Homo sapiens: one gene and its partner. The protein of the gene in region 1 purifies or fractionates together with the protein of each later gene. This does not show direct contact. Each region holds a gene or a part of one and is shown on either strand. Other genes may lie near its edges.

Region 1 (3,821 bases):
CTAAATGTTTCCACTGCATTTCAGTGTGATTAGAAATGCCCCTCCCTCAAAAGACAAGCCAACCACATTTCCATGCTTTGTTAGTTATCGGATTAATAGTGAAGTAATGCCATCCGTGCACTGGATCCGCCCATTCCTTAGCATGTTTTAAGAATGATCTGGTTGGACCCTACCATTGAAATATGATTTTGTGCTTCTTTAACATGTCTCATAGCAGGTGTATCTAAAATCAGACTTGGTCTACCTTTCATCTGTTTATGGTCCTGGGTATATTTTACCTGCAAAGTAAATAGTAGGCATAAGACAATGATAAGAAAACACATGATGTAACATTTTTAAGCTTTACAAATGAGTGAAACATATGCAACATACTTGAAATTATTTTCCAGGTAACTATTTCAGTGAATTAAATTTTGTTCTAGAATAGCAACCTAAAATTTTACAATCAAAGATCTCCTCCACCGCCTACTGCTAAATGACCTAAATCTATCAACTCTAAACAAATGTGTGAATGACCAATAGTAACTATCTATCTAGTCTGTAAACCTGCGCAAGCCCGAGGACTCGTATCTGTAATCACAGCACTTTGGAAAGCTAAGGTGGGAGGATGACTTGAGGCCTGGGATTTGAGACTAGGCTGGGCAGCACAGTGAAACCCCCCATCTCTACAGGTAAAAATTAAAAAAAAAAAAAAATTAGTTGGGCGTGTGCCTGTAGTCCCAGCTACTTGAGAGGTTAAGACAAGACAGCTGCTTGAGCCCAGGAGTTCAAAGCTGCAATGAGCTATGATTGTGCTATTGCATTCCAGCCCGGGCAACAGAGACTGTGTCTCAAACACACACATACACACATACACACACACACACACACACACAACTGGTTATCATATTTAAGTTAAACAGAGAAAATCCAAAACTATTAAATAGAACCCAAAGTTATTTTGTTTCTAAATTTCCCAATTTTCTACCATAAGAGTGTTAAAAAATGCATACAAGCTACTCTATTTCTTTTTATTTTTTTCTCTGCTTAGGGAATAAGAAACAATGAGGAACAAATTTAGTTGTTCTTCTAAGCAGCCACAACTTAAAGGTAATTTATGTTAAATACACACAGCATCTCTGGACAGAAATGTCACTAGGAAGCTGTAAATTGCAAAGCCTAAATGCTGATTCTCAGGCAAACAGCTATTCAGGGTATGCTAAGAAAAGGGCCTGTGTTCTTCACAACTGCCCATCAGAACACCGCCATTTATGAAACTGATTAGGTGTAAGATATGGATACCACTTACTGTGGACCTGAGGGCATTATGTACAATTCAGAATTGAAGCCCTGATATTCACTAAGAGGAAGCACAATATTCAGATAAGATACTCATGTACACCACTGGACTTTGGTGAGCAACTGAATTCTACGTTAACTGTATTTAAGGATTCTTTTCTGTAAGTCTTTAGTGGGGGTAATGATCCATCTCCTATTTTGTTTTGCAGACAGCATTTAACAATCCATGTTCAATGAAATATTTCAGGAAAATGACAATTATTTAACGCACACATCAAAGGCTTTACCACCTTCAAAGACACGGCTAACATATCATGAATCGTTGTTTAAATGAATATAATTTTAACCTAAGCTTTGAATGTAACTGTTGGTCACATCTGGAAATAACAAAGAGTTGCAAAATAATGTAAATGTTTGCAGTGGCAGCTTTTGGAAGTCATCTGAAATAACACATGTACTTATTGGACACATCACAAATGTTTCTTGAAAATAAGTTTTATTTTCACAAGCAAAGGAGGACCGCAAGTAAATAATAAAAGACACATCCTTTGTGATAGTCTAAAATGAAGAAAACCACTTGCCGAGCTAATATTTTCTTGATTCTTCTTCACTCTTTCCATTTCAGGAGTTACACTTAAAGTGGTAGCTCTTCCCAGCTGACCTCTGTAATAAACCTATCATTTCAGAGAACAAAAAATAGAATACTATGAATCAATTCAACAAAGAGACTTATTTATTTATTTAAGACAGGGTCTTGCTCTGTCACCCAGGCTGAAGTGCAGTGGTACAATCTTTGCTCACCACAGCCTCGATCTCCCAGGCTCAGGCAATCCTCCCACCTCAGCCTCCCAGGTAGCTGGGATTACAGGCACCTGCCACCATGCCTGGCTAATTTTTGTATTTTTGTAGAGATTGAGTTTTGCCATGTTGTCCAAGCTGACCTGAAACTCCTGGGCTCAAGTGATCCACCCACCTCAGCCTCCCAAAGTGCTGGGATGACAATCCTGAGCCACAGTGCCTGGCTCACAGTATTTATTTTAATGAGTTAGTCAGGGAAGTTTTGTAGGAAACTACAAAAAATATTTTCAGAGGTTGAGTTGTATTTAAAATGCTGGCATCTTAAATCAATCTATTTCATTTCATCCCATAAGAGAGTACATGTGTCCAAATCACTGTGGATGTACTCGAATACATAGGCATACCATCCGTAAAGCTGTAATAAATATTTAACCACAAAAGGAAATGAGAATAAATGTCTTCATGGAGATTACTTAAAGGTATTCACCGTAGACTGGTACTACATGGTCGTGGTTTCTTAGGAATTAACTGCGGCAGAATTTTTGTAAAGATGTGTTTAAATAGGTGACTGTGGGCATCCTTTAAAAAGCCAGCATGCTTCTCACTGGTCCACTCCTTGTCTAAATAACCATGTTCCTTTTTGAGAATAATGGAGTCACATCAAGTATGACTCTAAATATATGGGGGAAAGATGAGCGTCTACTTCTCTAAAATATAGTTGTTAGGAAAAGTATCAATCACCTGCCTTTGCATTATAAACTGGTAAAATGACTTTAAAGGTGTGAAGAATAAAAGATTTCTTTGAACGTAATAGATTTCCAAGTTTCCTCTTCCAAAGAACCCAATCTATATGTTAATGACTGTAAAAGAGGACTTTCTTCTTGAACTGCATCCGTGAATTATTTCAACAACAGGGAATCGGAGCAGGCCACAAGTTGGTGTCTAGGTAAAAACTGCCAGCCCCTTATTAAGTGCCCCCAAAATGGTCCTGTCCAATATAACCTATTCAGCCATGCACACATTATCATTTCTTCCTAGACTTTGCCCAAAAATGGAGTCATGATTGTGGGAAGTGGAAAGTGGGGCTCGGAGGAAGCGCAAGAACAGGAACACATGCTGGTAGAAAAGGGAGGGAAAATGTTTGTTTGTAGGGCCAGGATGCCAGAAGCTACGACTGTGGGACTTGAGGAGACCATAGCACCCATCAGCTAGATGACAAGATAGAAGGGATACACAACAACCTGTCAAAAAAAGTCACCCAGGCCCGGTGGCACACATCTGTAATCCCAGCACTTTGGGAGGCCAAGGTGGCCGGATTGCATGAGCTCAGGAGTTTGAGACCAGCCCAAACCCCGTCTCTACAAAAAATACAAAAATTAGCCAGGTGTGGCAGCATGTGCCTGTAATCCCAGCTGCTTGGGAGGTTGAGCTGGGAGGATCACTTGAACCCAGAAGGCAAAGGTTGCAGTGAGTCAAGATTGTGCCACTGCATTCCAGTCTGGGTGACAGAGCAAGACCCTGTCTCAAAAAAACAAAAAGAAAAAAGTCATCCTGATGAGTCACTGGGAACCCTGAGGTGGGGAACACCTGACTGTACCCACAATACCAAAGTCCCCGAAATCTTTCAAATAAGTTGTTAGTCAAATGAGAACAGGACATCAGCTCAAGGTTATGAAAATTCTATAAATACAATCCCTTCATTCACACGTGGACAATGCATTTGATAGTGTAAGAAAAAAGTTACT
Region 2 (3,821 bases), on another chromosome or scaffold:
GGGAAGTGAGGGTGTGCGTCGCTGCCCCTGCAGCCCAGACTCTGGACCTTGCATTCTGGTTCCTGTACACTGTTGCCGTGGTCTTGAGAGCCCTCAGGTCATCTAGCGTGGGCTGCCGCCTCCTCGTCAGCTTCCAGCTCGTGTCTGGTGCGGAGCAGAGGCTTCCTACTTCGTCGACGTTCCTGAATGAGGTCATCATCTGGTGTAGGCCTGAAAACAACCCGATTAGGTAGATTCCTATTCATAGCCCCATTCTTCTGATGACAGATTGAGTCCTGGCAAGGATTCAAGACGCCCGTGGGATCTGGTAGCAAAGAAACTGCAGAGATGGTTTTTTAAAAACGACTTTATTTAGATGATTTACCTACCATACCCCTCACCCATTTAAAGTGAACTATGCGGTGGCTTCAAGTATATTCATAGTTGTGCAACCATCACCATGATCAACCTTAGAATATGTTTATTGCCTCCAGAAGCAGCCCATCCCCGTTAGCATCTGCTCCCTGTTCCCCAGTCTCCCCAGTTCCTGGCAGCCACTCAGCTAGTATGCTTTCTGTCTCTCTGGATTCGCCTGTTCAGGACATTTCATATGAATGGAATTATGCAACGTGTGCTATTTAGTGATTAGTTATGTCACTCTGCATAATTTTATATTTAGAGTTACCTGTGTTGTAGCATGTATCAGTATTCCATTCCTTTTTATATCTAATATTTCACTGTATGCATACACCACCTTTGGTTTATCTGTTGATTAATTTATGGAAAATTGGTTTCCACTTTTTGTGTGGATGTGTTTTCACTCTCCTGGGTGTTAAGTGTTTCACATTTTGAGGCCCTGCCACTGTTTCCCATAGCGGCTGCACTATTTTCCATTCCCTCTAGCAGTGTGCGAGGGCTCTGATTCTCCACATCGTTCCCAGCACTTGTTACTGTTGTTGTCTACTTAGCAGCCACTCTAGTGGGCGTGGAGCGACCTCACTGTGGTTTGGTTTGCGTTTTCCTGGCAGCTGATGCTGTTGAGCATCTTTGCATGTGCTCATTGGCTGTTTGGGTATCTTTTTTTTTGTTTTTGTTTTGTTTTGTTTTTGAGACATATTCTCACTCTGTCACCCAGGCTGGAGTATAATGGCGTGATCTTGGCTCACTGCAATCTCCACCTCCTGGGTTTAAGTGATTCCTTTGCCTTGGCCTCCAAGTAGCTTGGACTACAGGCGCCCACCATCACACCCAGCTAATTTTTGTATTTTTAGTAGAGATGGGGTTTCACCATGTTGGCCAGGCTGGTCTCGAACTCCTGACCTTAGGTATCCGCCCGCCTCAGCCTCCCAAAGTGCTGGGGTTACAGGCGTGAGCTACCATGCCTGGCCTCTTTGGGTATCTTCTTTGGAGAAGTGTCTATTCATACCCTTTCCCCACTTTGAAAACTGTTTTTTGCCTTTTTTTTATTGACTTTTAGGAGTTCTTCATATACGTTCTAGACACAGGTTCCTTATCAGAGAGACGATTTGCCGATATCCTCTCATTCTGTAGGTTGTCTTTTCACTTCGATGGTTTTGTTTACAGCACAGTTTTTAATTTTGAAGTCCAATTTAGCTGTTTTTTCTTTTGTCCCTTGTGCTGTTGGTGTCTTATCTCAGAAGCTTCTGCCTAACCCAAGGTTTACTCCTACATGTTAAGAGCCTTATTGTTTTGGTTGTTACTTTAGCTCTGCGGTGCATGTCGAGCTGATGCTGGTGTGGTAGGAGGAGGCTCCAGCGTCAGTCTTTTGCTTGTGGGTGTCCAGCTGTTGCAGCACCATGTGCTGGAGAGACTCCTTTTTCCTCCCAACTTGTCATCCTCCCTGACAATCCGTTGACCCTAAATGTGAAGGCTTATTTCTGGACTGTTGTTTCTGTTTTGTTGATCTGTACAGCTGTCCTGCAACTGCCCGGTCTTGACTGCTGTGGCTGTGTAGGAAGCCTTGACGTCGAAAGCCCGAGTCCTCCAAATTCGCTCTTTTTAAGGTTGTTTTGGCTCTCCTGGGTCCCATGCATTCCAGTTTTGGATCAGCTTGCTGATTTGTGGAATAGGCAGCCGCAACTTTGGTAGGGATGATGTTGAAACTGAAGATCAGTTGGGGGAATGTCTAACAACATTAAGTCTTCTGGTTCCTGGGCTGGCTTTGAACCCACGTTGTCTGAATCTGGAGCGCAGGCTCTTGACCAATGCACCTGTCCTCACACTGTGCTCTTTGCACACTCGTTAACAGTGTGTCCTGGAGACTTTTTCATGGAAGGATATGTGGATACTCATTATTTTTAACAGCCACATCAGAATTTATGGATCTACTACAGTGTATTTAGTTCATTTACACTGTTTTCAGCTTTTTCTTCATGTTAACATCAGTGGTGTCCTGAATCTATGTGTTTTGTGCACTCTTTTGGGTGAAGTTCCATTGCTGAATCAGAGTAAGGACGTTTAAATTTTTGAGAGATGCCCCCAGATTTCTCCCTAGTGTACCAAGGTTTGCTTTCCCATGGGTGGGGACACCCTTCTGCGCTGGGTGCTCTGATGCTGCAAACCTTTCTAGGAGACCCATGTAACATTGCATTTTCCAGGGTTTGAATATTCACTTTTGAGTACTATTTGCAAATACATTAAAAGAAAACACAGAAACAGATGAAAATGTCAGATTGTTGCCAAATACTGCAACATGAAATCAGAAACTGATCTAAAATCTGAATTAGCAAAAGCCTGCCAGTTTTAACAGTAAAGCCAAACTCAGGGCAAGCAGACAAAGAATTTTTATTGTTAATAAAGGGAATAATAAACTTCCATGAAGTCTCAGGTACCTGCCTCCCTGGAAGGGGCTTCAGGACACACTGCTAATGCTCGGACCAGTGTCAGAGCCAAATACACACTTTCCTATGGCTGGAATGTGCGTCATAAACAGGCTGAAATGAGCACTTTGTTAGGCGAGCAGCTAATGCTTTGTCAGCTTTCAAATTTCATTTAATATACACGGCTTTAGTTTTCAATACTTTAAATTATTCTTAGCATGTATTTTTATGTCCAGAATTGGTGGGTTCTTGGTCTCACTGACTTCAAGAATGAAGCCGTGGACCCTCGCGGTGAGTGTTACAGCTCTTAAGGTGGCGCGTCTGGAGTCTGTTCCTTCTGATGTTCAGATGTGTTCGGAGTTTCTTCCTTCTGGTGGGTTCGTGGTCTCTGTCTCAGGAGTGAGGCTACAGACCTTCGCGGTGAGTGTTACAGCTCTTAAGGCAGCGCGTCTGGAGTTGTTCGTTCCTCCCGGTGGGCTCGTGGTCTCGCTGGCTTCAGGAGTGAAGCTGCAGATCTTCGCGGTGACTGTTACAGCTCATAAAAGCAGTGTGGACCCAAAGAGTGAGCAGTAGCAAGATTTATTGCAAAGAGCGAAAGAACAAAGTTTCCACAGCGTGGAAGGGGACCCGAGCGGGTTACCAATGCTGGCTCGGGCAGCCTGCTTTTATTCTCTTATCCGGCCCCGCCCACATCCTGCTGATTGGTAGAGCCGAGTGGCCTGTTTTGTCAGGGCACTGATTGGTGTGTTTACAATCCCTGAGCTAGACACAAAGGTTCTCCACGTCCCCATCAGATTAGTTAGATACAGAGTTTCGACACACAGGTTCTCCAAGGCCCCACCAGAGCATCTAGATACAGAGTGTCGATAGGTGCACTCACAAACCCTGAGTTAGACACAGAGTGCTGATTGGTGTATTTACAAACCTTGAGCTAGATACAGAGTGCCGATTGGTGTATTTACAATCCCTGACCTAGACATAAAGGTTCTCCAAGGCCCCACC

What was found.
Region 2: the proteins of NEBL (region 1) and NAXD purify together in Homo sapiens (affinity purification with mass spectrometry; one large-scale study listed by BioGRID and IntAct). This does not show direct contact.

What each region holds. Positions count from the first base shown.
Region 1 is NC_000010.11:20,813,766-20,817,586, forward strand, and holds part of NEBL (nebulette), read right to left. Parts: exon of another isoform or gene 3,740-3,821; intron 1,953-3,739; coding exon 1,860-1,952; intron 279-1,859; coding exon 174-278; intron 1-173. UniProt on the Homo sapiens protein: Binds to actin and plays an important role in the assembly of the Z-disk. May functionally link sarcomeric actin to the desmin intermediate filaments in the heart muscle sarcomeres.
Region 2 is NC_000013.11:110,628,961-110,632,781, forward strand, and holds part of NAXD (ATP-dependent (S)-NAD(P)H-hydrate dehydratase), read left to right. Parts: intron 1-3,821. UniProt on the Homo sapiens protein: Catalyzes the dehydration of the S-form of NAD(P)HX at the expense of ATP, which is converted to ADP.